Regions from separate parts of the Homo sapiens genome. Here all the other regions are linked to region 1. The links come from fine-mapping of genetic effects on gene expression. A gene starts in region 1. Each other region holds a variant in brackets. All regions are shown on one strand. Distances are from middle to middle. Region 1 holds the start of RNASE6 (ribonuclease A family member 6). Region 2 overlaps LOC105370397 (a long non-coding RNA gene). Region 3 has its middle 43 kb from the start of RNASE1.

Region 1 (10,790 bases):
CTGGCTTTCCCGGTGGTCCACCCCTTATTTGGATAGCTGCATATTGACTCTCCTTAGGTATCTACCCTTCCTCTTTTGTGTGTAGTATTGGTGAGGCTGTCCACTAAGGTCTGCAGTCCCCTCTACTGAGCCAAGCGATGGTTATGAGATCCAAGCTAGCCTAACTGAAGTCTCATAGGAAACAAGAATATGTCACCCCAAAATATGCCTCCAGGTTGAAAGTCCTGTCAATTAGCATTTTTGCTGCTCTGCATCCTTACTGGCTTTGATGATGTCAGTTTTCACTGCATTTTAGTCATTCATGTAGGTGTGTAGTATTATCCCATTGTTTTAATTTGCAATTTTCTAATGACAGATTGAAGGGATTCACAGCCCACCAATATGGCAAAACTGCCCTTGCAGAGTTATGGAGTGTTGCAAGCCAGGCTCTAGGCAGAATTGCACATTAATCATAGCATGCTGGTACACTTCAACCCACTTCCCTGTAGCTTCTAATTTCCCAAGTAGCATGCTGACCACCTACTCCCCGATTGTTCCTATAGGTAGAATCTCCAATACTAGAATCATGAAATCTTTTTGCTTAAGAATTGCTTAAGGTGTTTTTCTGATCCTGAATTCCAGTGCAACAGCTAATGCTAACCAGTCTAAAGACCCCTACCAAGGAACTGGCTTGGCACATGAATGCTGAGTTTCTTCATGTCCCTGTCCCATGACTTCACCTCTCACTTCTTGATGAATCAGAAATGCTCACATTTTGGCCCTTGTCCAGACTCCTTAAAAACCCTATCCCCAAACCCAAAACCAAATTGTAGGTTACCTCCCATCTACTCATTTGGCTGCCCTATGAAAATTAAACTCTCTCTTTTTCAATCCCTGTTTTCTTAATATATCCATTTGTTGTGCATCAAGTAACAAATCTGTTATGATGATAGTGGCATGAAAATTATTTTAAACTGAAAATGTCTGAACAGACAGAAGCTGCAGAAAGAAACACTATTTAAACTTAACCAGAGCCTCTTGAAAATTCAGCTGCCATTGATCCCCTTCAAAGGTATTTTCCTGTTTGAAACGAGACAGCCCCTTAGCACTGGGATGTGTAAATTAGCTTCCATAAACCCCCATACAGGGAAACTTCCAGCCAGGAAGAAATCAATCTACCCATTTCTATTAGCATCAGAAAGCTTACTAGAACCTTCCATATTTTCCTTTTGAAGCCCCAACAAAAATCTTTTATTTTTTATTTTATTTTATTTTTGAGACAGACTTTCACTCTTGTTGCCCAGGCTGGAGTGCAGTGGCGCAACCTTGTCTCACTGCAACCTCCGCCTGCCAGGTTCAAGAGATTCTCCTGCCTCGGCCTCCCGAGTAGCTGGGATTACAGGTGCCCACCACCATGCCTGACTAAATTTTGTATTTTTAGTAGAGACGGGGTTTTACCATGTTGGCCAGGATGGTCTCAAACTCCTGACCTCAGGTGATCTGCCCACATTGGCCTCCCAAAGTGCTGGGATTACAGGTGTGAGCCACCATGCCCGGCCAAATCTTTTTTTAAAAAATAGAGATGGGGGTCTTGCTATGCTGTTGGTTTCAAACTCCATGCCTCAAGTGATCCTCCTGCCTCAGTCTCCCAGAATGTTAGGATTACAGGCATGAGCCACTGCACTTGGCCAAAAACACTTTTTTTAAAGTTGATATATAACTTTACCTCTGGCTATTCAGCAAGTTACGCATTATGTAATACTCCTGTGTGCATGTGTAAATAAACTTTGAATTTTCTCCTATTAATCTTTTTCTAATTCACAAGCTCCTTTACCACCACCTTTAAAACCTAAAATGATAGAGGAAAAGTTTTTCTCCAAACAATGTGATGCTGAACATCTTTTCATTGCTCATCTGCCATCTGTATATCTTGTTTGGTGAAGTGTTGGGGTACAGAGAATCATACTACAAACTATGATGCATGGCATTCTGAGCACTTTTGAATTAAAGAAATTAAATTAAAGAATTAAATTTAACTAGAATTAAAGAATTAAAGAAACCAAAACTTCTTAGAAGCTGCCTCAGGACCAAAGATGTTCTAATCTTCTCTCATTCCTCCCCCAGCTCTCAAATGCAGAGAGGAGCTCTCTCTGGAAGTTCCCTTGTCTGGATAAGGAAAACTTCTTCCAAGAAATGCAATTGTCTTAAGACCCCCCTTTCTAAAAATCTCATCAGATAACCAGGAAATATTAGCCACCTGAAAAAAAGAAGAGACTAGAAGTCTCTTCACACCACACTCAGATAGACCTTTCATCTATTCTTCCAAGAGCAGCTCCAAAAGAGTACCTAAGAGACTTTATCTGTATAATAAGGCAACCTTTGTTCATAGTGCAGTTCCACCCTTCACCTTCCCATAACTCGTCACCCTTCCATTCAGCTTCCAAAGAGACTCATTTACAAACTATTGTCTGCTATTTGGGGCCAGTTCCCTAAAAAATATTTAAAACTCCTCAAAATTGCCTACATTTTCCCCATGTTCCTCTCCCCTATGAAGAGAATACATGAATTTCAACTATTTAGTCTTTCTTTGAGTCTCATAATTTGTATGGTTCCCATGATTATGCACAGTAATAAATTTGTATGCCTTTTTCTCCTGTTAATCTGTCTATTGTCAGTTCATTTCAGAAGTTTTGAACCTTCAGAGGGAGAGGAAAAATTGTCTTTGCCCCATACCATTCAGATGTTTTGCCCATTTTTCAACTAGGTTGTTGGTTTTCTTATGGTTGAGGTTTTTTGAGTTCTTTGTATATTTTGGATAATGTTCTTTTATCAGATATATCTTTTGCAAATATCTTCTCTCAGTCTCTGGCTTATCTTTTTATTCTCTTAATAGTATCTGTTGCAGAGCAGAAGTTTTCAATTTTAATGAAGTTCCACTTATCAATATTTTTCTTTCATGGATTGTGCTTTTGGTATTGTATCTAAAAAATCATTGCCAAACTCAAGGCTGCCTAGATTTTCTTCTATGTTATTTTCTAGAATTTTTGTAGTTTTGTATTTTGCATTAGGTCTATGGTCCATTTTGAATTAACATTTGTGCCAGGCGCGGTGGCTCACGCCTGTAATCCCAGCACTTTGGGAGGCCGAGGTGGGCGGATCACCTGAGGTCAGGAGTTCGAGGCCAGCCTCACCAACATGGTGAAACCCTGTCTCTACTAAAAATACAAAATTAGCTGGGTGTAGTGGTGCATGCCTGTAATCCCAACTACTCCGGAGGCTGAGGCAGGAGAATCACTTGAACCTGAGCGGCAGAGGTTGTGGTGAGCTAAGATCATGCCATTGCACTCCAGCCTGGGCAACAAAAGCGAAACTCCATCTCAAAAAAAAATTGTGAAAGATATAAAGTACAGGTCTATGAAAATGTATGAAGTCTAACCTATGAAAAGATTTATTTTTTGCATGTGTACATTCAGTTCTACTACCATTTGTTGAAAAGACTAACTTTTCTCAATTGAAAATTGATCCTTTGTCACAGATTAGTTCACTGTATTTGTGTGGGTCTACCTCTGGGCTTTCTACTTGGTTCCATTGACCTATTTGTCTATTTTTCACCAATAACACACTGTCTTAATTGCTGTAGCTTTATAGTAAGTTTTGAAGTTGGGTCACGTCAGTTTTCTGACTTTGTTCTTCTTTTTCTGCATTGTGTTGACTATTCTGAATCTTTTTTTTTTTTGAGACAGAGTCTCGCTCTGTCACCCAGGCTGGAGTGCAGTGGTGCGATCTCGGCTCACTGCAAGCTCCACCTCCCGGGTTCAAGCGATTCTCGTGCCTCAGCCTCCCAAGTAGCTGGTACTATAGGCGCCCGCCACCAGGCCTGGCTAATTTTTTGTATTTTTAGTAGAAACGGGGTTTCACTGTGTTAGCCAGGATGGTCTTGATCTCTTGACCTCGTGATCAGCCTGCCTCGGCCTCCCAAAGTGCTGGGATTACAGGCGTGAGCCACCGTGTCCAACCTGAATCTTTTACTTTTATATAAACTTCAGAGTCAGTTTGTCACTATCCACAAAATAATGTGCTGGGATATTGATTGAGATTGTGCTGAATCTATAGATCAAGTTGAGAGGAAATGACATCTTAACATATTGAGTATTCCTACTCATGTACATGGAATATCTGTGCTTCCTCAATTTCTTTCATTAGAGTTTTAAATTTTTCCTCATACCAATTTTTACATAATGTATTAGATTTACACCTAAGTATTTCACTTTCTTTGGTGCAATATAAATGGTATTGTGTTTTAAATATCAAATTGCAATTGTTCATTGCTGGTATATAAGAAAGCAACTGACTTTTGTATATTAACCTTGTATCCTGCAACCTTGCTATAAACAGACATTATGTTTATTCTGCAGACATTTGGAGCCATAAAAGCATGGGGCAAGAGTGTTGTACTATTATATCTTGTTCAAAAAAAGACTAATCTGGAAGTAATATGTAGAATGGATTGGAAGGAGAAAAAAACAAGGCAAGGAGTCCATGTGGGAGGCTTTTATGTGAGCCCTCCATAAGACAATGAGTTTCTGAATAAGGGTGTTGCAGTACCAGTGAAAAGGTAAGAACAGATTCAAGAGGCAAATATCCTAAATTCGGCCTTCTTCTTCAGGCTTACAGGTCTTTTCATACACAATTCTGTCTTTGGGAGGCGCTTAACACTCTCTTCACCTAACTTCTAATTATTCCTCAAAATTCAGTTCAGGTGTTGTGCCCTCCAACAATCCTTCCCCTCTACTATCTTCCCGTAGCCTCCTGCAGTGTCCTCCATCACACTGTAAGTGCTATTTATATTAATATAATCTACTTGTCTATATACTTACCTGCCTGTCTCTAATCTCTTTCATTAAATCATGAGCTCCTGGCAGATCACGAGGTCAGGAGATAGAGACCATCCTGGCTAACACAGTGAAACCCCGTCTCTACTAAAAATACAAAAAAATTAGCTGGGCGTGATGGCAGGCACCTGTAGTCCCAGCTACTCGGGAGGCTGAGGCAGGAGAATGGCATGAACCCAGGAGGTGGAGCTTGCAGTGAGCAAAGATCGCACCACTGCACTCCAGCCTGGGCGACAGAGCAAGACTCCGTCTCAAAAAAAAAAAAAAAAAAAACTCATGAGCTCCTGAATTTGTGTAGCCTAGTACCTGGCCCAATAAGTATATGCATAAATGAATAATGTATTCACTTCTGTTGTAGGAACTTACAACATTACCAAGTATGTGGCAGGCATTATATCATATTTATGTGACATATTTTCTCTTAAGAAACAGGAATCATAAAGCTTCAAAAAAAAACACTGAAGCCTCAGATGAGGCAGGAAGCACTCATTCCATATCAGGAAGTGATCAGTTCCTCAAAACTGTGAGTTTTCAGTCATGTTGTTTCTTTAAGTTGGTTTAGCCTTCCTGTATACATGTGATAATGATACTGTTTTAAAGAACAGGTGTGAAAGTCTAAGAGTTTAATCCAGACTCTGCACAAGAAGTTAATCTGCCAAACCCTAGGATTCTCCTTCTGAAAGCTCAGAATATTTCTTCCCCTTCCCTATACACACAGGGCTCGAAGGGTTAGAGAAGAAAGGCAGACAACAGCTTCTGAGCTTTGGACTAATCACAGCCTCTGTTCTCAGCAGGAGCCCCAACACTGAGACCAGGTAAGAAAGAAAGCCTCAGGGCTGGAGCGAGTAGAGCAGTAAAGACGGCTGGGAGGTAGTGGTCAGATAGAGGGTAAATATTTCAGGAGGGAAGAGGGAAGAAACTTTCTGATATGACAGCCATCAAATGCATGAGTACTTGTGAAAGAAAATGGGATATGCCAATCAAAGGAGAGGTCATATTTCTGTTTCCTGGGCTTCAGGTTCTTCATAGAATTGTGAGACTATGTGAGAAAGAAGATTTTAAAGGGAGCTGTAAAATCTTAAAAGGCAAAATAAAAATCTAAATAGTTATGATTAAAAATTTTGCTCTTATTGCTTCTCCTACTATAACTATCTTCTCTCTTTCTACACAGAAAAGATGGTGCTATGCTTTCCTCTTCTTTTACTGCTGCTGGTTCTATGGGGACCAGTGTGTCCACTTCATGCTTGGCCTAAGCGTCTCACCAAGGCTCACTGGTTTGAAATTCAGCATATACAGCCAAGTCCTCTCCAATGCAACAGGGCAATGAGTGGCATCAACAATTATACCCAGCACTGTAAGCATCAAAATACCTTTCTGCATGACTCTTTCCAGAATGTGGCTGCTGTCTGTGATTTGCTCAGCATTGTCTGCAAAAATCGTCGGCACAACTGCCACCAGAGCTCAAAGCCTGTCAACATGACTGACTGCAGACTCACTTCAGGAAAGTATCCCCAGTGCCGCTATAGTGCTGCTGCCCAGTACAAATTCTTCATTGTTGCCTGTGACCCCCCTCAGAAGAGCGATCCCCCCTACAAGTTGGTTCCTGTACACTTAGATAGTATTCTCTAAGGCATCCACTGCATTTCCTTTCATTTGACATAGCTTCTGTTACAATTGCATCCATGTTTTCTTTTCTTTTGTTGATTTTCTTGTTCCCGTAGAAGAAAGAAGAAAGGTGTTTGGAGAATTCGAGTGCCTAGGATGCCAGACCAGAGTTGAGACAAAAAGAAATAAGATTATTTTCTGCTTTGTAGTTCTGTACTTTTCGAGAGAAGGGAATAGGGAAGACAGCAAAGAAAGATTCAGATTTCTAACCCTGCAACTTTTGCCAAGCTTTATTGCCCTGTGTTCACAGCAATAAAACCACTTCCTGCTGCATTCTAATGAGTGTGTGTTTGAGATCCGCTTTCAAAGCATTGTTGACCGGTACTCAGAGGAACACTGTTTTGACTTTAAGTCCCTAGAAAACTTTTGAGGCCTCCCTGGGGCCCCACTTCCTTGCCCACAAGAAAGGACAGCGTTTGGGACTTTGGAGCATTTCTTCAAACTCTGCTCATGACTTTATATATTCCCCTGGAAACCATTGTCTATGCTTAATTGGAGGTAGTACTGATACCTCAAAGACAGTTGATGATAACTCACACATAGATTCTGTCACTGGCAACTGAAGGATCCTATGTCTTTTCTATTTGTTTCCGTTTTTAATCAGATAATGTTTTAAATATAAGGTGATAGTAGTAGTAATAGGGATAATAATCCATTGTAGTAACCTTAGGGTCAATCCTCCATTATTTATTGAAATGGATAAATAGAAAGCATAGATCAAGAAAAAAGCACTAGGCTTGTCGTGGTGGCTCACGCCTGTAATCCCAGCACTTTAGGAGGCTGAGGCAGGTGGATCGTCTGAGGTCAGGAGTTCAAGACCAGCCTGGCCAACATGGTGAAACGCTATCTCTACTAAAGATACAAAAAAAGTAGCTGGGCGTGGTGGCAGTGCCTGTAATCCCAGCTACTCGGGAGGCTGAGGCAGGAGAATCGCTTGAACCCAGGAGGTAGAAGTTGCAGTGAGCAAATATTGTGTCACTGCACTCCAGCCTGGGCAACAGAGTGAGACTCCCATCTCAAAAACAAAAAAAGAAAAAGAGAAAAGCACCAGGAGACCCAATGCAGTGGCTCACACCAGTAATCCCAGCACTTTGGGAGGCCGAGGCAGGCAGACGACTTGAGGCCAAGAGTTTGAGACCAGCCTGGCCAATGTGGTGAAACCCCATCTCTACTAAAAATACAAAAAATTAGCCAGACATGATGGCAGGAGCCTGTAATCCCAGCTAATCAGGAGCCTGAGGCAAGAGAATCGCTTGAACCTGGGAGGCAGAGGCTGTAGTGAGCCGAGATTGCACCACTGCACTCCAGCCTGGGTGACAGAGCGAAACTCCCGTCTCAAAAAAAAAAAAAAAAAAAGGAAAGAAAGAAAGAGAAAAAAGCACTAGGAAACTAAAAACATTCTAGTCCTATGTAAATACTGAAATACCACAGAAGTATTGGGGTTTTGGAACAGAACCTGAACTAAGCCATTTCACAGAAGGAACTTCAGTTTCCTTGTCAACCTCTAGAGTCATTGGGCTAGTGGGCCAGTGTAAATCCCAAGTGCTTTGTACAGTGATGAGTCTTCAAGTAGCAGCCAAAGACAATGAAGTTTTTTTGAAAAGGCTACATATTGTAGTGTCTTCATTACCTGTGCTGCAAATGATTCTTTCCAAGCCAGACTATTAGTTTAATAGATATGCTAACTCAGCTCACCTTCCTTTACGCTACACATTTATGTCATATCTTAGGAACAAAGAATGGAATATGAGGTTTCAGGAGCCTGGATTCCAGGGTGATGACTGATCAAGGGCCCTCCCATTGGGAAGAGATTAGCAGGTCAGGGCAATATGGCACCTAAGAAGGTGGGTACCTTATAGAGGGAATCCTACAGTGGGACTTGAGTGCTCTAACTCAAAGCAGCTTTCAGTTGTATTCAGCTTTAAGCCATGTTGCATTTACATTTTATTGTCTCAGAGTCTTCATGTAAAGTGTGGTGGAATGGCAGGGAGAATCTGTGCTCACGTTTGGTATGAACAAGTATACGAAAGTAGCAGCATCTGAAAGGAAAGGGGTTGAATGGATTTATATGAACATTACCTGGAAATTGCCAGAGATTCTTAAAGGTAATCTAGTAAAACCAAACAACTCAATTGCTCATGCTATTGTTATTTATATAGTAAAGGTATCTCATGGATTGAATACATCTGTGCTGCAAAAATTTTTCAACTGTCAGAAACATTAGGGAACATGAAATGTTACTTAAAATTAGTGAAATAAATTGTGAGGTCTAAAATACTGCAAATATTTTGTAACAAATGGTTAAAAACAAAAATATAATGAGTGCCATCTTTTGAAGAGATTTGCAGCAACAATATCTAATCTTCCCCACCCTCCCATGACAAACCTATCCCCAACAACAATTAGAGTCACTTTTTGTTGCTGATCAAGGAAAAGGCAACAATGAGGGTAACTTTTCAACAATCTATTATGCCCAAACTTTTAGAAGGTATTAGTTCTAAACAAGTGGAATAGACTGGGATGGAATCTCTCATAGATTTATTTTCTTTTCTACATGCAGTTATGTATTGCAGAAGTTCAATACATAATTGCTAAGAAGTTCACTTAGATATATCCCTAGAATATACAGAATGATCCCAAAGCAGGCAAAGCTTAGAAGTGAATTCAGCAGATGTTCTAGCAGCTCTCAACTCTGGCTTCATATTAGATTCACCTGGGAGCTTTTAGAAAAATACCAATGACGGGATCTACTAAATAAATTTTATGAACATTTAATGAACAATTAAATGAATATCTGGGGGTGAGACCTGGGCTCTAATGGATGTTTGTTAAAGATCCCCATGTAATTGTAATGGGCAGCAAATATTGGTAACAACTGTTGATGCAGGGGTAAGCAAACTACATCTGCAGACCTCTGGCCTGCCGCGCCTATTTTATACTGCCTGGAGTAGTGTGGTTTTTACTTTTATTTTTTTTTTTGAGATGGAGTTTGGCTCTGCCGCCCAGGCTGGAGTGCAATGGCTGGATCTCGGCTCACTGCAACCTCCACCTCCTGGATTCAAGCGATTCTCCTGCCTCAGCCGCCTGAGTAGCTGGGATTACCCGCCACCACGCCCAGCTAATTTGTTTGTTTGTTTGTTTGTTTGTTTGTTTGTTTTTTGAGACGGAGTCTCATTCTGTCGCCCAGGTTGGAGTGCAGTGGCGCGATCTCAGTTCACTGCAAGCTCTGCCTGCCGGGTTCACGCCATTCTCCTGCCTCAGCCTCCCGAGTATCTGGGACTACAGGCGCCCGCCACCACGCCCGGCTAATTTTCTGTATTTTTAGTAGAGACGGGGTTTCACCGTGGTCTTGATCTCCTGACTTCGTGATCCACCCGCCTCGGCCTCCCAAAGTGCTGGGATTACAGGCGTGAGCCACCGTGCTTGGCCGATTTTTACTTTTTTAGGGGGAGAAGAAAAAGGAGGAGGAAGAGGAGGGGGGGAAGAACAGGAAGAAGGAAGGAGTAGAGACGTGAGGGAGGGGAAGGAAGGGGAAGAAGAGGAAGAAGAAGGAGAGGAAGTGACACAGACCCTATGTGTTCCACAAAAGTGAAATATTTACTGTCTGGTCCTTTATAGAACAAAGTGTGTTGATTCCTGGTCTTCTAGACTATTCAATGGATCTTGTCCTTTGGCTGTGGCTGAGGCAGGTGGCTGGAATTCAGTAGGAAGGACGACACCTGGCAGGCTGAGAATTTTGAACTGGGGCCTCAGGAAAGTAATGATTTTTTTTTTTTTTTTTTTTTTTTTTTTTTTTTTTGAGACGGAGTCTCGCTCTGTCGCCCAGGCTGGAGTGCAGTGGCGCGATCTGGGCTCACTGCAAGCTCCGCCTCCCGGGTTCCCGCCATTCTCCTGCCTCAGCCTCCCCAGTAGCTGGGACTACAGGCGCCCGCCACCACGCCCGGCTAATTTTTTGTATTTTTAGTAGGGACCGGGTTTCACCATGTTGGCCAGGATCGTCTCGATCTCCTGACCTCGTGATCCGCCCGCCTCGACCTTCCAAAGTGCTGGGATTCCAGGAGTGAGCCACCGCGCCCGACCGTAATGAATTCTTAATATTCCTTTCTGTGCCCTGTTTCAGTCTTTTTCTGCAATGTACTCATTTCCTCTGCTTTTCTTTTTCACACAGTAAGTAGACAGTCATCCCTTTCCATCTCACTTTCTAATTTTCTCTGAAATATTATTTATTTTTGAAGGGATTCTGACTGATCCCAT
Region 2 (9,209 bases), 33 kb after region 1:
TAGGTTAAGCAATTGGAGTTCCTGGTTCTAAAGCATCTCAGAGGGACTATCAATTGTTTCTTATTTTTCTGATAGTGGTCATGATGCTAGTCTGTTCCGTTTTATCCAGAGTTTTAAATGCTTCTAGCAGCCACTCTGTCATCAGATGATTGCCATAATGATACAATAGAAAGATCAAGAAGATCTTACAATCCAGGTCACTATGAAGATGACTGAACAATTTATGATTGGTGAAGATGTGAAATTCTAACTTTCTCTGAGTTGGTCAACTTCTCAGAAGTCAGAGAATGACCAAAAGGAGGGACTGAAAGACTGACCATACAAATGAACAATGACCAGACCATATATAAAGATGGAACTCTGACCTGTAGTCTCCAGCAATAAGTATGAGAAGCCAACCCACTATATACAGCAAACAATCCAGGAAGCCAAACAACTCCTATAGCAATTGGCCCCAAACAGCTAGGACTTGATTACCCCTATTTTATTTCTTAATTTTTTCCTTGCTTGAAAGTCTCTCTTTATGGACTTGATTAATAACTGAAAAGTTCCCTAATATTTATTTCCGCTTCCCCAAATTAGGACCAATCAGAGAAAGCCAATATGCATCCCTAATCCAACACATAGGATGCCCTGCTTCCAGTAGCCCACTTACAGCTTCTGCATGCCGCAGCCTGCAACCAGAGCATCCCTGAAGCCTTTCCTGTTTTCCATTGTGAAGATTCCCACTCTCCTGCCTACTGTGAGTGTCTGCCAAATGCAAGTGATGGTGGTTACCTGCCATCTGTGGCCAACTCTGAATAAACAGCCTTTGCTTATTCTCATTTGGGTGGCTGTGCTCATTTCCACAAGCTCTTTAGAAGAATAAGGAAGTGGGTATGTACAGGGTAAGGACGTTTTTACAAGAAAAGCTCAGATAATCTGAAGGATGTCCTATCATTAGGCTGGCTACAAAAGCTCAGCACAGCCCCCCAAATACACATGTACGAGCACACACACACCCTGCATGCACGTACATACAATATGCACACACACATACAATAGATGATATTCCGGGATTCCTTTTGAACCCCAGAAAGTGAGAAGGCAAAGGAAAATTAGAACAGGAAAAGACGGAACAGTGGGGGCAGACAAAGGGAGCGGAGTGGTGTTTGAAAGTTGAAGGAAGTGAGGGGAAAGAATGCAAGAACCAGCTAAAAAAGATCCGAAGCCCGTGCTGTCCCACGCCTCTCACCCATTGCCTACAACCCAGATGCCCATGAAGATAAAGTAGGATAACAGCCAAGATGACATCCCTCAACTCATTCCCTTTATTTTTTATTTTTTTATTTTTTATTTTTGAGACAGCTGTTGCCCATCTCAGCTCACTGAAACGTCTGCCTCCCGGGTTCAAGCAATTCTCCTGCCTCAGCCTCCTGAGTAGCTGAGATTACAGGCACCTGCCACCATGCCTGGCTAATTTTTGTGGGGTTTTCTTTTTAGTAGAGATGGGGTTTCGCCATGTTGGCCCAGCTCGTCTTGAACTCCCGACCTCAAGCGATCCGCCCGCCTTGGCCTCCCAAAGTGCTGGGATTACAGGTGTGAGCCATCACACCCAACCAACTCTTCCTCTTTTGTAGGAAGCTCATTTCTGGCCTGCAGAGTCCTCTTCCCTGAATCGTGTGCGCTTAGGCCACTTACTGGCTAATGCTGACCTATGATGGATCAAGGAGCAGAACTGGGCAAGAGGCTACAGTGGAAGTGGCAGAGTCAGAGACCTCCATCTTAAGTTCCCTCCGTCTGGGGACTCTTTCTCTCTTCTGTCTCTCAGTGGCCTCAGACATTAAAGAATTTGGGACAGATACATTTAAGAGTTCATTCTCAGCCATGTCTGAGGAAGTATGTCTGAGTCTGAGGGCGTTTGAAGGTATGTGAGGGGCAGGAATGCAGCTTCAGAAAAGCTGTGCTTCGTCTTCAGTTCTCAGCCTCTCCTTCCTGAGCTCCTTCCCTGTCTGGCTTCTTCCACACATCTATACAGAGACTGTCTGTCTGTCTGTCTTTTATTCTTAAGAATCCAGAATCATTTAGAACCCAGTCAGGGCCAGGCACGGTGGCTCACGCCTGTAATCCCAGCACTTTGGGAGGCTGAGGTGGGCAGATCATGAGGTCAGGAGTTCAAGACCAGCCTGGCCAACATGGTGAAACCCCCGTCTCTACCAAAAATACAAAAATTAGCCAGGCATAGTGGTGCATGCCTGTAATCCCAGCAACTCAGGAGGCTGAGGCAGGAGAATCGCTTGAACTGGGGAGGCAGAAGTTGCAGTGAGCCGAAATCACACCACTACACTCCAGCCTGGGTGACAGAGCGACACTGTCTCAAAAAAAAAAAAAAATGTAGCTCCTATTTAAAAGGACTTCACTCAGTGAGGGTGGATATAGCTGAATCATTTTCTTCGGGAGAGCATCTGCTGGCTCCCCAAAATCTCTTTGCAGAAACTTGTGATAAGCCTGAGTGCGAAGGAATGGTGTGAGGGGGAAACATCCAATTGCAGGAAGGTGAGAAACAAGGAGCTGGAGTCTGGTGGGCTCCAGAAGGTATGAGTGCAACTGGCCTACCTCATGTTCTTGGGAGCCTGAGTCTCCTCCTTAGAAAGTGACTCTGCAGTGAAGACATCAGATTTCTTAGTACTTTTCCCAAAATGCCAACTTCTCTGTCACTGAGCATGACTGGGCTATCCAGGTCCCAAGTTTGAATTTTTGAAGGGAGGACAAACTTCAGAGTTCAAGGTGGTCTCCCCAGACCACAGTCATGTCAGGAAACCGCACCAGTGACTGGCCTGCTGCCAGGCTTCGGTGAGGATATGAAGGGAAGTACATTTTTGCCCTTTTCACAGAGTGCCTGGAAATGAATCCCTGAAATCCTCCTAAAGCCAAAGGCAGCCCTAGACGGTTAGAGCTACACCACACCCAAGGGCTCAGGGCCCCAAGGAACCTCCTCAGAGACAGGCTGTGGGAAGGCCCACCCCTCCCATGTTCTCTCAGGAAACACATCTGCCCCCGTCCCAATCTACACAGTTTTCCTGACTGGAGCAAAGGTCAATTTGAACTGCAGGAGCTTGGGAGATTTTATGATCCTATGGGCTAAAGAGTCTCTTAGGAGACAGTATAGCCCCTCAAGCCCAATCCAAAACTAAGCATTTATGGGCCTCAACTGAGAAACCCCCTCCCCAGTGAAACATTATGCAAGTTTTTCCTAATTTCTGTCTCCCGTCCACATTGCAAC[G/A]TTTTGCCTCATGTGACAAACCAATTACTGAAGGGGAAAAGGCAACCGTGGCTGTGCTGGCTATCATTCCTGTGTTTATTCCCCTTTTATAAGACTCTCCACCTCTCTGTCCATTAGGCTTCCACTCCCACCCCCAATCCCACCCCACCCCCACCCCACAGTATGAACTGGGAGAGAAAGAGGTTCTGATGCCTGAGCCCTTGGCTGAGGCCCACCAAGCACAGGTTCTACTTTCCCAGACAGTGGCTCTGACTGGCCTGTGAGCACACCAGGTGCAGTCAACAATCTGGTCTCCAGAACACACAGGGGGCCTCCACCTCCTCTGGTGCCACCATCCCAGCCTCCTGACACTACCAGTTTTCCTCACTCTCCATAGGTCCCTTCCCACCCCACAGACCAGCCCTGGTCTTTTAAAATGGAAATCAAATGTTGCCAGGGTGTCTATAGAAAGATAGAGACTTCGTTATCTCTGGTTCCTGATTACAGAAGACCTGATTCCCTTTCAGCCTGGGTTGTTCAGTGGTCTCTTGACTTCATCCATTTTCTGAGAACTTTTCCTATCCCTGACTCAACCCAACACCACCATTCACCTCTAGATCAGGCACCAGTGCCTCTCATCCCTTCCCTAAGGGACAGCCCACCTGCCCCAGCCCCTCTAAGAGCTTATTGCTGAGGTCGTCAAAGTATGAACTTTTGACCAGGACTCCCACGTGAAAGAAAATATGGACATTTACCTTTGAACTCAAGGAACAAAAAGACCCAAGCAATGGAAAGTAACTTCCGCCCATTGGAGGAGACTGAGAGCCGGGGCAGACCAAGGTCAGACAGCACCTTGGCAGCAGAGGTGGAAAGCATCCTCGGTCCCTGGCTTCCCCACTCTGTGGCAGCATTCTCACTATACCATGCTGGCAAGTATGCTTCAAGTGGGGAGACTGCCTCCAGGATGTGCACTCAAAGGGCTGAACTTATGGTGAAACTGATCTCTTCTTTTAGGTCTGGATTTCCCCTAGAGTCCCCCCACATCTCTTCCTGCTGGGAATTGTGGTGGGAGAAAACAGATGGCTTTGCTGCTGACCCCTTCTGAGGAGTTGGAGGATTGGGGACTCCTACTGAGGTCTCATTAGGGGCCCTTCACTGGCGCAGCTGGAGTGTGGGTGAGCAGGTCAGGCCTCCCGCTCTTCAGTCCATGGGGGCATTTGTTGATTCCAATGCGACACTGGAGGAAGGGAAGCCTTCTTAGGGGGACGAGGCCTCTAGGAGGACACCTGCTCCAAGCAGTAGCCTCCCTCTCTTTGAAGAGGTCTCACATGCTGGCTTCATCAAGGAAGCAAGGTCTGGAGGAAAATCATTGCTTAGAAATGTTTCTGGCTGGGCGCAGTGGTGCATGCCTGTAATCCTAGCACTTTGGGAGGCCCAGGTGGGCAGATCACTTGAGGTCAGGAGTTAGAGACCAGCCTGGCCAACATGGCGAAACCCTGTCTCTACTAAAAATACCAAAATAAGCCGGGCGTGGGAGCACATGTCTGTAATCCCAGCCTCTAGGGAGGCCGAGGCAGGAGAATTGCTTGAACCCAGGGGGTGGAGGTTGCAGTGATCTGAGATCATGCCACTGCACTCCAGCCTAGGTGATAGAGTGAGACTCTATCTCAAAAAAAAAAAAAAAGAAAAAAAAAGAAAAAGAAAGCAATGTTTCCTTTCACATCTGCCATCTCCTGCCTCCTCCTTCTGTTAATCTTGAGGACTCTCACAATGGCATGACAGTACCTCTTTTCCCATAGGAGGACATATTGCCAAGGGACAAAGCACATGGATGGGGGAGCCTATCAGGTCTATCAAGGTGAAGAGAGGCCAGTGTTATCTCATTTAGAGAACAAGACTCACATTTGCTTAAATGGAGCCTGTTATCTGTCACTAAATTCAGCCTTCTGACCCATTGTCTGACCTGCTTCCATCACTCCAATCCAATCTGGCTGAATTCCTGCCCACTGAACATGGTTCGTGTCACACACGTCTGTATGAAGGGAGTCCACCAACAGGCTTTATGTGAGCAACAAGGCTGTTTATTTCACCTGGGTGCAGGTGGGCTGAGTCTGAAAAAGGAGTCAGCAAAGGGTGATGGGATTATCATCGGTTCTTACAGGTTTTGGGATAGGCGGTGGAGTTAGGAGCGATGTTTTGAGGGCAGGGAGTGGATCTCACGAAGTACATTCTCAAGGGTGGGGAGATTACAAAGAACCTTCTTAAGGGTGGGGAGGTTACAAAGTACATTGATCAGTCAGGGTGGGGCAGAGACAAATCACAATGGTGGAATGCCATCAGTTAAGGCTATTTTCACTTCTTTTGTGGATCTTCAGTTGCTTCAGGCCACCTGGATGTATACCTGTAGGTCACGGGGGTATGATGGCTTAGCTTGGGCTCAGAGGCCTGACATTCCTGTCTTCTTATATTAATAAGAAAAACAAAACAAACTAGTGGTGAAGTGTTGGGGCGGCAAAAATTTTGGGGGGTGGTATGGAGAGATAATGGGCGATGTTTCTCAGGGCTGCGTCGAGCGGAACTAGGGGTGGTGTGGGAACCTACAGCGGGAGAGATTTAACTGAAGAAAGATTTTGGGGTAAGGGGTGATATTGTGGGGTTGTTAGAAGGAGCATTTGTTGTATAGAATTATTGGTGATGGCCTGGTTGCGGTTTTGTATGAATTGAGAAACCAAACAAAAGACACAAGGTCTGAATAAGAGAAGGAGAAAAACAGGTATTAAAGGACTAAGAATTGGGAGGACCCAGGACGTCCAATTAGAGAGTGTCCAAGGAGGTTCAGTGTAATTACTTGTTTGGTTGGTGAATTTTTGGGCTCTATTTTTGACAGAGTCCTTTTTGCTAAGTTGGAGGCTGAGCTTGGCGAGGTGTGTTTTGAAAAGACCATTAGTCCGTTCTACCTTTCCTGAAGATTGAGGATGGTAAGGGTTATGAAGTTTCCACTGAATACCAAGAGCCTGAGAAACTGCTTGGGTGATTTGACTAATAAAGGCTGGTCCGTTATCGGACTGTATAGAGGTGGGAAGGCCAAACCGAGGAATTGTGTCTGACAGAAGGGAAGAAATGACTGCGGTGGCCTTCTCAGACCCTGTGGGAAAGGTCTCTACCCATCCAGTGAAAGTGTCTACCCAGACCAAGAGGTTTTCTAGTTTCCTGACTCGGGGCATGTGAGTAAAGTCAATTTGCCAGTCCTGGGCAGGGGCAAATCCCCGAGCTTGGTGTGTAGGGAAGGGAGGGGGCCTGAATAATCCCTGAGGAGTAGTAGAATAGAAGATGGAACACTGAGAAGTGATTTCCTTGAGGATAGATTTCCACAATGGAAAGGAAATGAGAGGTTCTAAGAGGCGGGCTAGTGGCTTGTAACCTACATGGAAGGGGTTATGAAACAACGACAGAATAGAATGGGCCTGTGAGGCTGGGAGGTATTGAGGGTAGGAGAGTATATGGGTTTGGCACCACGGGGTGGATAGGCAAGACAATTTGGTTGATAAGGTGCAAATCCTGAACTAACCTGTATAAAAGGCCATGCTGTAACAAGCAACTGATAACAGGCTTTAATCCTTTTAAAGCCTGCTGTGGGATGGGATACTGGTGTTGAGCAGGGTAAGGGTGATTAGGTTTTAATGGGATGACAAGGGGTGCATGATCGGTTGCCAAGGAGGGAGTAGAGGTATCCCATACTTGTGGATTAAGGTGGAGAGATACAAGGGGAAGGATGCGAAGGAGGCTTTGAACTGGGGAAAAGGGTGGCAATGAGGTGTGGCTGTAGCCCAGGAATAGTCAGGGAAGCAGATAATTTAGTTAAAAAGTCTCGACATAATAAGGGAGGTGGGCAGGTGGGGATAACTTAAAAGGAGTGCATAAAAGAATGTTGTCCAAGTTGGCACCAGAGTTGGGGAGTTTTAAGAGGTTTAGCAGCCTGGCCGTCAATATCCACAATGGCTATGGAGGCAAGTGAAACAGGACCTTGAAAAGAATACCTTCTTAAGGGTGGGGGAGATTACAAAGTACATCTATCAGTTAGGGTGGGGCAGAAACAAATCACAATGGTGGAATGTCATCAGTTAAGGCTATTTTCACTTCTTTTGTGGATCTTCAGTTGTTTCAGGCCATCTGGATGTATACGTGCAGGTCACAGGGCATATGATGGTTTAGCTTGGGCTTAGAGGCCTGACAGTTGTCACTTCTCCAGAACAGCCAATCTTTTTTTTTTTTTTTTTTTTTTTTTGAGAGAGAGAGAAAAAGAGCGAGACACAGAGAGATAGAGACAGAAAGACAGACAGACACACACACACACAGAGAAAGAGGTCCAAACAGAGGAAAGGACAGAGGAGAGCAGCTTCTTGCAAGAGAGAGAGAGAGAGAGAGAGAGAGAGAGAGAGAGAGACAGAAACACACACACACACACACACACACACCTCACAGAGGTCCAAACGGAAGAAAGGAGAGAGGAGAGCAGCTCCTTGCAGGAGAGAGAGAGAAAGAGACAGAGAGAGACAGACAGAGAGATAGCCAGAAAGAGAGACAGAGAGAGACACCCAGAGAGACAGAGAGAGAGAGAGAAGGAGAGAGAGACGAGAGAGAAAGATCCCAAAAAATGGAGAAGGGCCAATCTTCAACCTCTCTCTGCCATTCTGGTTCTGCCCCAAACTCAACTCTACTTCCTATTTTTCTTTTTCTTTTACCTATTTATATCTCTCATACAGATGCTAAAAAGCAGACCTCAGCAGAGCTCTGGTTGTTTTATGTGAGCAGAAGCGGGTATCCTACTTAGCACATACACATGTGAGGAAAAGTGTGGGTATCTGTGTTTCTGCACTAAGGTGTGGGATTTGTTTTCTACAAGCCCCACACATAACCCAGCCCCCTCCACAAGCTGGGTCTTGATGCCTTTGCCAGTAGGTCACTTGGTGACTGAGGTCAAGTCTTGTGACCTCCCTGTGTCTTAGTATTATCCCCTAAAGAGTAAAGAACAACAATCTCTAAGATGGCTCCCAGTTAAAACATTGAGTTTTGTTTGTTTTTTGTTGTTGTTATTGTTTTTCTTTTGAGACGGAGTCTCACTCTGTCGCCCAGGCTGAAGTGCAGTGCCACAATCTCAGCTCACTGCAACCTCTGCCTCCCAGGTTCAAGAGATTCTCCTGCCTCAGCCTCCCAAGTAACTGGGATTACAAGTGCCTGCCATCACACCCAGCTAATTTTTGTATTTTTGGTAGAGACAGGGTTTCACCATGTTGGCCAGGCTGGTTTTCAACTCCTGACCTCAGGTGATCTGCCTGTCTTGGCCTCCCAAAGTGCTGGGTGGGATTACAGGAGTAAGCCACCACGCCTGGCCCGTCTGTTTTTTAATGTTATCTCCTTCTAAAGATCTTCCCCTCAATATCTCTAAGGAAGAAAGGTTGGATCTTAATAGGAAATCTAGTTTCTTAAGACTTTTATGCTTCTCACAGAGCCAGAGTTACTTTTGTGAGTGTATTCATCAATTGCCTTTGGTCTAACTGAAAAAACAAACCCCACACCTTAGTGCAGAAACACAGATACACAGAAAGAGACAAAGTTCTCACCTATACCCCTTCCCCCATACTCCTAAATTCCTGTGAAAGACCAGCAAAAAAATGGATTTTTACCCCAGTATGGATTTTGTGTATGTTCACACTAAATACAATTCACAAAGTTTTATCTTTCTATGAAGAAACTAAATGCCACAGTGTATTCACACTTACAGGAATTTAAAGCTTTTATTGTAAAGCTAAGGCAGCATGAAGAGTAAGTGCTGTAATTTAATGTATAAATTCATTCTATGTTGATTTCTATAGTAGGAAAAAGCAACTTTGGTCTGTCTGTGGTTCCATCATCAATTCACTGAGTTAAATAGAAAGCTTCAGGAATATAGTATTAACAGAGACCCCAA
Region 3 (10,790 bases), 65 kb after region 1:
GGACAAAAGCACATGAATGGGATATTCTTGAGAGATCCCCTAAGATAAAGACAGGATTGGATATGATACCTGGGTGCTCTGGCCTGTTAAAGGGCCAGAGGAAGTAGAAACAAATGAGAAGTAGGTGGAACCAGAAAAAATACACTAATTCCAGGAAACATTCCAGGCAAGTGTATTAAAAATAATGATTTACTGCTTGGATTTGTAGTGAACATGATAATAAATAACAGCACAGATTCACATGGAAATCATGTTAGACTAATCTAATCTCCTGCCTTAGGTAGAATTAGGAAATGTGGAGAATATTTTGCATCTTTACTTCTGCAAAGCACTTGATAAAGTCTCTCAATGCAATGACTACCTTCCTAACTGGTTAAACCAGATCATGTGATGATGTGACACAGACCTGTCTCCACAGGCCTATCTTATTCATCATATTTTCAGGTGACTTGGATGAAGATGCAAAATCTCATCACAATAATAGATGACATGATAGTCAGGGAGAGCAAATAACATGGATGATGGAATCAAGATCCAAAGTTCTTACCAGTCTGAAGCAGTGGATTATATCCAGTAACAAGAAATTTCACAAGTATAAATTTTGTGCCCTTGAAACAAAATCAGTTGCATAAGTACAGGACAGGACTTGGATGCTAACTAATAGTTTGTCATAAGTACCTTTACTTACCCAACATTAATTGAGGGCTTCCCCAGTGTTGAGGTTGTGTTAGGAACTGGGGATACAAGAGTGAGTGAGACACAGTTCCTACCTTCAGTGATTTTGCAGTCTGTTGAGGAATATAAACAAATAAACAGGAAATTATAATGTTACGTGAAAGACTCCTAGAGCTAAGCCAGGCTCGGTGGCTCACACCTGTAATCCCAGCACTTCGCGGGGCTAAGGCAGGCGGATCACCTGAGGTCGGGAGTTCAAGACCAGCCTGACCAACATGGAAAAACCCTGTCTCTACTAAAAACACAAAATTAGCCGGGTGTGGTGGCACATGCCTATAATCCCAGTTACTCGGGAGGCTGAGGCATGAGAATTGCTTGAACCCGGGAGGCAGAGGTTGCAGTGAGCCAAGATCACGCCATTGCACTCCAGCCTGTGCAACAAGAGCAAAACTCTGAAAAAAAAAAAAAAAAGAAAGAAAAGGAAAGGAAAGGAAGGAAGGAAGGAAAGGGAGGGGAGAAGAGAAGACTCCTGGTGCTAAAGATCCCAAAGGAGCACTTTACCCCACTCTGACAGGTTTAGGAAATTTTTCCTATGGTAAGTCACAGCTGAGTGCATACCCAAAGATGAGTAGGAGTTATGTAATGTTGAGGGAAAGAACTTTCCTGACAAATCCAGTAGCACGTCAATGGCCTGTAAACGAGGAGGACCTGGCTCAGTGGGCCCTGAAAGCCCTGGATTGCTTGCGTGGCTGAAGTAGAAGTCTACAGGGGCTGGAGAAGGGAGCAAGGAAGGACCAGACCGAGGAGAGGGGTGAACTGGAATTTAATCCTGAGGAATAAAGACATTTAAATAGGGTGTCAGACTTATTATTTAAAAAGAGCACTCCGGCAGTAAAGTAGAGAATGGATTAAAGTGGGGACCAGCCTGGGCACAGAGAGATTATCAAAGAGGCAATTACAGTAAACGATCTAGGAGAAATGTGGATGGCCCTAAATAAGCCGTGAGAATGAAAAGCAGTGGAAGTTAAAGATATGGAAGAGAGAAAAATCTACAGAACTTGGTGATTGATTGGTTTAGGGCAATGAGAGAAAGGAGGAAGTCAAATAGAACACAGGATTACATTGTCCTGTGTAGCAATTTAATTTTTTTGAACACTCCCAGTAACAGTAAGAGAGAGATGCTAGTATTATGTCTGCTTTACACTTGAGCAAGCTTGGAGAAGTTCACTAACTTGTTTAAGTTCAGGCTAGAAAGGAGTATATATTCGCTATTCAAACCTAGACAAACTAAAATATAGACTGAGCTTTTATTTTCATATATCAAGTACAAGACATAAGAAATAATAATTTTTGAAATATCAATTCCTGTTTAACATCAAAAGTTTTATGATTGTATCCTATTTTCTGAGTCTCAAGTCTTTGTCCGTAAATGTTCACGGATACCCAAAAGTGTTGACATTTGAATCCCAGGTTATAGCAAAGAGGACAATAAAGCGACTTGCAGGATCTTCCTTTGTTACTAATGGAATGTCCAACAGCAGAAGAAGTGCAGAAGTCCTGAGAAATGATGACTCTAGGGATTCTGCTTAGGCAACTCATTTATAAAAATGAGAGTCACAACAGGAACATTTACTATAATCAGAAAGATAAACTCCAAGGTTTTTAAGATTACTTTCAATTAAATGACAGACTGATTTCTGACTTCTCAAGAGACCAGGTAAACCAGAAAACAGTAACTATTATGTTTAAACTACTGGCTGGGTACAGTGGCTCATGTCTGTAATCCCAGCACTTTGGGAGGCCAAGGCAGGTGGATCACTTGGGGTCAGGAGTTTGAGACCAGCCTGGCCAACATGGTAAAACACTGTCTCTACTAAAAATATGAAAATTAGCCAGGTGTGGTGGTGGGCGCCTGTGGTCCCAGCCACTTGGGAGGCTGAGGCAGGAGAATGGCTTGAACCCAGGAGGCAGAGGTTGCAGTGAGCCAAGATCACACCACTGCACTCCCACCTGGGAGACAGAGTGAGACTCTGTCTCAAAAAATAAATAAATAAACGACTGAGAGAAAAGTACAGCCAACTTAAAATTATCTAACCTGCAAAAATGTCACTTTAAAATGAAGGTAAAATAAAACTTTTTCAGACCAAAAAAAACCTAATAGAGTTTATAACTAGTGGACCTTCACTAAAGGAAATTTCAAAGGATATACTTCAGGCTGAAGAGAAAAGCTACTCGATGGAAATCTGAAGTTCAGGAAAGAATGAAACACAGAAAGCATGATAGAGCTGGGCGTGGTGGTATGTGTCTGTAATCCCAGCTTCTCAAGAGGCCAAAGTCAGAGGATTACTTGAGCTCAGGAGTTCAAATCCAACTGGGGAAATTAGCAAGATCCTGTCTCCTAAAGAAACAAAAACAAAAACAAAAAAAAAACAAAGCATGATAAATAAATATGTGAGCAGCTGGGCTCAGTGGCTCACGCCTGTAATCCCAGCACTTTGGGAGGCTGAGGTGGGTGAATCATTTGAGGTCAGGAGTTTGAGACCAGCCTGGCCAACATGGTGAAGCCCCATCTTTACTAAAAAATACAAAAAATTAGCCAGGCGTGCTGGTGCACACCTGTAATCTCAGCTACTGGGGAGGCTGAGGCAGGAGAATCACTTGAACCTAGGAGTCAGAGGTTGCAGTGAACTCAGATTGTGCCACTGCACTCCAGCCTGGGCAACAGAGTGAAACTCCATCTAAAAAAAAATAAATAAATAAATGAAAATAAAAAACAAATAAATATGTGAGCAAATATAAATTTTTTGACTCTATAAAGCAATAATGTCTTATAGAATTAAAAACATAAAATTAAAATTAAAATTAAATATACAACAGCAGTAACAATTTGAGAATGTTATAAATTGAGTCAAGTGGGCCTGGTGCAGTGGCTCATACTGTAGTCCCAGCACTTTGGGAGGCCAAGGCAGGAGGATCACTTGAGCCCTGGAGTTAGAGGCTGCAGTGAGCCATGATCACTTCATTGCACTCCAGCCCGGGTGACATAGTAAGATCCTGTCTCTAAAAAAAAAAGAAAAAAAATTCAGTCAAGTACAAGAGATGATTTAAAATATGAATTAGATTTTTATTTAAAATTAATATTTAAAATAATTAGATTTTTAAAATATAATAGATTTTTATATGTTTAGTATGCATGCTGAAATTTCTAGGATAAACAATTAAAGGAATAGAGACACCGTGTATACATTCCAAACTAGCAGAGAGAATAAGTGAAATGTGAATCAGTTAGAATAGGCTTACTTGTGCTGCAGTAACAAAGAACCTCAAAATGTCAGTGGCATAAGATTTATTACTCATTTCTCCTACACGTCCATCATGGTCCAGCAAAGGGGTTCTCCCTACCATAGTCACTTGGGAACACAGGCTGACACAGGCTTCATCCTGACACACAATTCCACAGTAACAGAGGCAAAGGGAAGAAAGCATGGTAACCTGCAGGCCAACTCTTGATCCTGCTGCAAGAAGGGACATACATGACTTCTACTCACACATAATTGACCACAGAAAGTCACGTAGTCACATCTAAGTACAAGGGACAAAGAAGTAGGATCCTTCTAAGTGCCTGGAACAAGAGAACTAAACACCTGTGATTAGCCTTAATGGCTTTTATGGAGTGATATAGAAATACACAACTAATCCAAAAGAAGGGAAAACAGGAGACGAAAAAGAAATACCAAACAAACGAGACAAATAGAAAAGACTAAATAGATGATAGATGTACACTGAGGAAGATGGAGATGAATAATTGCAATAAATATAAATGGTCCAGTTAAAACACAACACTGATGGAGGAAAATCTAACTCTATGATGTTTACAAGAAATACTTCAAAAATGTAAGAATTCAGAACTCTGGAGAATGAAAAGATAGAAATGATAAAAATTGCAGCATAGTCATGCTTTAGAATCCTTTAGGGCAATAAAATTGAACAAAATATATCCCTTGTAGCAACATAAATGGATTGAATAAACATAAGGTAGTTCAGTCACAAAAAATATATATACAATGAGATTCTATTTATATAGCATTCAAGAACAGGTGAAATTAAACTGTAATGGTTAGAGACGGATACATAAGTGATATAATTATAAAAAGAAGAAAGGAAATTGTTATCTCAAGCATAATTTTTTTTTTTTCTGGAGGGAAAGAAAGTGCCGTGGTCAGGAAAGAGCACATGGTTGAGAGCTTCAGAAATACTGCCATTGTTCTGTTTCTGACCTTGGCAGAAGTCAAAAGGGTGTCTGCCTCATAGATATTCTTTAAACTTTGCCTACATGTATGATTTTGGCACTCTGGTACGTGTGCGTGACTGTGTGTGTGTGTGTTATATAATGTACCTTATAATTTTTAAAAAATGCTTAAGAAGTAAAGATTTTATTAGATGATTAGATGTGAAAATCAGGAGGTCATGGATTCTTTGCTACAGTAGTTTCAGAGCGTCCTTTTTCCAGCTGAAGAGAATATTAGAGCTAAAGGAACAGAGTCAACAAGGAGCTTGGCAATGAAGAGAAGGAGCCAACTGGTAAGTAGTTTCGGAAGGCTGCGTAGAAGGTGACATGAGATTGTCCATATCCTAAGGAGTCAGTACAGAAGACACTGGAAATACAGGGCACAGATACAGCACAGTCTCAGGAACTGGGCAAAGATGGGATCCAGCTCACAGGCAAAGGTACAGGAGAATGTCCTACCTATAAGAATGTTGGAGGCCAGGCACAGTGGCTCACGCCTATAATCCCAGCATTTTGGGAAGCCAAGGTGGATGGATCGCCTGAGGTCAGGAGTTTGAGACCAGCCTGGCCAACACGGTGAAACCTCATCTCTACTAAAAATACAAAAAGTAGCCCGGTGTGGTGGCAGGCATCTGTAATCCCAGCTACTCAGGAGGCAAGGCAAGAGAATTGAGTGAACCCGGGAGGTGAAGGTTGCAGTGAGCTGAGATCATGCCCCCGCATTTGAGCCTGGGCGACAGAGTGAGACTCTGTCTCTTCAAAAAGAAAGAAAAAAAAAGAATGGTAGAAAGGAAGGGAAGTAGGTACCAAAATGGAAACGGACGCAGCCAAGAAACAAGGAAGTTGACCAAGAATATGAACAGAAGAGGAAGGTCCTTTCAGCAATGGAACCTACTTCTACAACTGGAACTTAAGTCACTATCCCCCTTTGCCTCAGACTTGTTCTGAAACAGGGTTCGGAGAATGTGTGCATCAC[C/T]TGTGTTGTCTGGATCATGGGGAAAGATAACTGGTACGGAATGACCTGTGACCTGTCACTGAGAGGGCTCACTTCCTGTGCATTAAATCACAGCTACTGTATTCAGATTCATTACACATATTAAAATATGACATTCATCTCTCAGAATATTTCTTTTTTTTTTTTTTTTTTTTTGAGACGGAGTCTCGCTCTGTCGCCCAGGCTGGAGTGCAGTGGCGCGATCTGGGCTCACTGCAAGCTCCGCCTCCCAGGTTCACGCCATTCTCCTGCCTCAGCCTCCCCAGTAGCTGGGACTACAGGCGCCCGCCACCACACCCGGCTAATTTTTTTTTGTATTTTTAGTAGAGACGGGGTTTCACCGTGTTAGCCAGGATGGTCTCGATCTCCTGACCTCGTGATCCACCCGCCTCGGCCTCCCAAAGTGCTGGGATTACAGGCGTGAGCCACCGTGCCCGGCCAGAATATTTCTTAAGTAATTCAACGTATATCACAACTGTAATTTCTTGTTTTTCTTTTTGAGACGGAGTCTCGCTCTGTCGCCCAGGCTTCAGTCCAGTGGTGTGATCTCGGCTCACTGCAACCTCCACCTCCAGGCTTCAAGTAATTCTCCTGCCTCAGCCTCCCGAGTAGCTGGGGCTACAGGCATACGTTGCCACGCCCGGCTAATTTTTTTGTATTTTTAGTAGAGACAGGGTTTCACCGTGTCGCCCAAGCTGGTCTCAAACTCCTGAGCTCAGGCAATCCGCCCGCCTCGGCCTCCCAAAGTTCTGGGATTAAAGGCATGAGCCACCGTACCTGGCCCCAGCTCCGTGATCTGTAAAACAGACAAGCTGGATAACTCACAAAACAATAATAAAGAATAACTGAAATGTATATGTATATTGGGGGTGGATTTAAAGAGGGGTGTAGAGTCGGTTCACCTTTTTAATCTTTCCTGTAATACTGACTGATATTTTTCTGGATGAGTACAGATTTACAGACAAAAGTCCTGATTTAGTATTTTAAAGATAAGTGATTTTTGATCTTCTGTAATTTGTTTCTTTATCTGTAAATTAAAGCACCTTATTCAAAGGGTTATTGTGTGAACTAAATAAAATAACCCAGGTAAAGCATCTAGAACAGTTCAGCCAGCTCAGTGATCAGAGTTGCAGCCTTATTTGCCTGAATAATGAAATAATTATTGATTTAAGTTCCCAGCTATGAAACCATATGTCCCAGTTTGCCCAGGATCTGCTCTATGTATGCTGCTGTCCTGGCTTAATTACTAGTAGTATTCCTTCTCACTCTCAAAAGTATCACAGTTCAGACAGTAAATTAGATGGGCACCCTATTCAGAGCACATAGTAAGCTCTCCATAGATATCATTATATTGTTATTATTACCAGTTTAATATAGCTTCTGAAAAGGTCACAATTAACAGGTAAGTTTGGCTGGCACGGCGGCTCATGCCTGTAATCCCAGCACTTTGGGAGGCCAAGGCAAGTGGATCACCTGAGGTCAGGAGTTCGAGACCAGCCTAGCCAACATGGTGAAACCTTGTCTCTACTAAAAATATGACAATTAACCGGGTATAGTGGCATGCGCCTGTAATCCCAGCTACTCGGGAGGCTGAGGCAGAAGAATCGCTTGAACCTGGGAGGCAGAGGCTGCGATGAGCCGAGATTGAGTCACTGCACTCCAGCCTGGGTGACAGAGCAAAACTGTCTCAAAAAAGAAACAGTTAAGTTTACATTCTGAATTAGTAGGAGTGACAATGATTGAAGTTTTTGACTGGGCAGGAAAGATAGACTGACAGTTCCCTCATTCTATCTTTATATAGAACTGGAGAGCAGCACAGAAGGAGGGGGACATGTCAAGGAATACCAGGCGGGCAGAGCCTGCTTTAAGGCATCTTCCAAAGGTTATGAGTCACTGCAGACACACTGAGAGTCACACTGGGGGAAGGTGCAGCAGACAGGGAGAAGTTCAAAGTGGTGTTTCTGAGAGACTTGGGGCACTGTGTACAATTAATCATCTCTCCACATGGGTGACTGTGGGAGCCACAGCAGTGCCTGAGTCTTCCAGGGGAAACACTGAACATGGAAATTTGTGGAAAGGAAACGAAGGAGGTGGATGAAAGCTGGAGGAACAAGTGTTTAAACAATGCAGCTTTTCTTGCCCTGGAAGGTTCTTTGGGTACTAACCTTCTGTGTGGTAGACAGAGGGCGGCCGGGGAGAGGAAGGAAACTACCAAGAGAGAGCAGCAGCAGTCTTGCCTGTGCTCCCCTGTGGTGCCCTTTCTTTTGAACTCTTTCTTGAACCCTTAATCCCTGTCAGGCTCCTGGAGGAGCCTCACTGGGCAGCCTCAAATCTCCCCAGTTTGCCCTGTCCTCAGAAAAGCAGACCATTGAAATTGCTATTTCAGAGCTGGAAGCTGGTCAGCCAGCTCAGATGACCGGAGTTGCAGCTCTTATTTGCCTGAATAATAAAATCATTATTGACTTAAGTTCTCAGCAAACAGTGGGGTATTTGTTTCACATTTCTGAGCTGCTGCTCAAGTTCCAAAAAATGTCCCCTTCCAAAGAAAAGTATTTAAAATTGGATTGAGAGCGAAGAGTAGGTGGAATAGGCTATTGTGGGGGAGGTCCTGGATTTGCAGTGAACTTTCACTGACCTTTCAGCTCCTTAGGGCATGCTCCTTGTCATCTGTCCATCATGCCCAATGGCCAGCCTAAGGGGAGAAAATAGAGTGCTCTCTCCATGATGGCCAAAACTACCTGCCTGGCTGGCTGTCCGTCCGTTATCATCTCAGTCTCTAACCCACTTCTTGCTGCTCCTGATTCTATGCCCACTTAACTTGTCAACTGTGACTTTGTGGAACATAATATAACAAAAAAAGGCATGGGCTTTAGGGAAATTGGCCCCAATTTAGGCAGGAATTTGAGCCCCAGTGCCACTGCATAACCTAAAGCTAATAACATCATTTTGGTTATCTGTTATTGCATAACACACTTACTAAACAGTACTTTTTATTTTATTTTATTTTATTTTTTTAGATGGAGTCTCCCTCTGTCACCCAGGCTACAGTGCAGTGGCATGATCTCAGCTCACTGCAACCTCTGCCTCCTGGGTTCAAGCTATTCTCCTGCCTCAGCCTCCTGAGTAGCTGGGACTACAGGTGCAAGCCATCATGCCCAGCTAATTTTTGTATTTTTAGTAGAGACAGGGTTTTGCTATGTTAGCTAGGCTGGTCTTGAACTCCTGACCTCAAGTGATCCAACTGCCCCAGCTTCCCAAAGTGCTGAGACTATAGGCATGAGCCACCTCACCTGGCCTTACTAAGCAATACTTTTATTAGTTCTCCTGATTTTATTATTTAGGTATAAACCTGCAGTCTTAACCAGGGTGAGTGAAGTGGGGGTAGAAAAAAAGTTCATATCCTGAACCTTTTTTTAGCAATCTTGTTTACTATAGTGGTATGAACAAAGCATTCTTAAACTACTTTTGATTTATTATAAGAGTGAGCAAATAAGTACAAGGGTTAATGTTGTTAATCACGCTGTGGAAGAAAGGACATGCAATTATGGAAGGGAGGAAGGCAAGGAAGAACCCTGTGAGGATGGATTGAATTAAAGGTATCTCTGTAAACTAATAATTTTTTAAATATGTATATGTACATATGCATACACATTTATGTATGTGTACATTCTTTTGTGGATAAATGCGGGCATATATTTCTTAACTCTGTTCACTAAAAAAGCCTTGAAACAAAGACACTCCAGCAGCAAAGAACACACCTACCAAGATCTTGGTCTCTAACACCATCCCCCCACTAAAAAATCAGGGCACCTTAGGAAAATGACTGAGGTGGAGCAGGTGCAAGATGAGGCTGGAACATATTGCTATGCCGCAAAAAAATGAAGTCCTGAGAAAGCAGAAAGGATAGCATATCACAGAGACACGGAAGGTAGCTTGAAACGGATCTCAGTGGCCAATACTGGGACTATTTGGGCACCAAAATATTAACTACAATAGTGAATTATAAGCCATTGAAAAAATAAAAATTTGTGAGTCCTACTGGCAATTAATATAAACACAAATAAACCAATGTGAAGAACATAGGGTTTTGCTTACAGTAGAAAGCTGAAAGCTAGCTGTTAAATGTGGCATGCAGAAACTTAAAAATTATCATTTTGTCACTACCATAGCAAAAAGTGGATTAAGCAAGAATTATCAATGCATGCTAAATCTAGGGGAATTTTTTTTTTTGAGATGGGAGTCTTGCTCTGTCACCCAGGCTGGAGTGCAGTGGCACAATCTCGGCTCACTGCAACCTCCACCTACCAGGTTCAAGAGATTCTCCTGCCTCAAGCTTCCCGAGTAGCTGGGACTACAGACATGCACCACCACACCTGGGTAATTTTTGCATTTTTAACTAGAGACGGGGTTTCACTATGTTGGCCAGGCTGGTCTCAAACTCCTGACCTCAAGGGATCTGCCCACCTCGGCCTCCCAAACTGTGGGGATAACAGGCATGAACCACTGCGCCCAGCCAATCTAGGGGAAATTTTGAAAAGAAACAGGGTGTTTACAAGACCTTAATGTATCCCCTCCACAAACTGTTTATTAGTAGAAATGGAGAAAAAAATAGCAATTATATAATGAAGATAACTGACAGCATCTTCCCTGGGTGATCACAACTGACATCATCATTGCAGGACACATGGATGTTTCATGCCTCCAGGCTTATTGCCCTGAGGACACAACATCACCTATGCAGTATTCTGAAACAGAATGCATAACCTGAATTTAATCATAAGGAAGCATCAGACAAACCCAAAATGAAGAATGTTAAAAAAGGAGGTGTCTTAT

Evidence for each region. PIP is the estimated chance that this variant, and not a neighbour inherited with it, causes the effect. A credible set is the group of variants that fine-mapping cannot tell apart.
Region 2: its variant is the best candidate, but not a certain one, in a credible set for the expression of RNASE6 in monocytes after interferon gamma (Fairfax 2014, PIP 0.75).
Region 3: its variant is the best candidate, but not a certain one, in a credible set for the expression of RNASE6 in lung (TOPMed, PIP 0.72).

What each region holds. Positions count from the first base shown.
Region 1 is chr14:20,775,653-20,786,442 of GRCh38, forward strand. It overlaps RNASE6 (ribonuclease A family member 6), which reads left to right and starts at 5,616. Exons shown (of 2, transcript NM_005615.5): 1 at 5,616-5,686; 2 at 6,043-6,815. The coding sequence starts at 6,048. The coding sequence ends at 6,500. All of the region lies in intron 1 of LOC107984671 (a long non-coding RNA gene), which reads right to left. RefSeq lists an enhancer at 6,691-6,760.
Region 2 is chr14:20,809,257-20,818,465 of GRCh38, forward strand. It overlaps LOC105370397 (a long non-coding RNA gene), which reads left to right. Exons shown (of 4, transcript XR_007064063.1): 4 at 583-645. Among named protein-coding and RNA genes, the nearest start is that of RNASE1, 11 kb to the left of the region's middle. RefSeq lists an enhancer at 4,513-5,013. The variant G/A (reference allele first, on the strand shown) is at 3,263.
Region 3 is chr14:20,840,902-20,851,691 of GRCh38, forward strand. No RefSeq gene overlaps it. Among named protein-coding and RNA genes, the nearest start is that of RNASE1, 43 kb to the left of the region's middle. The variant C/T (reference allele first, on the strand shown) is at 5,940.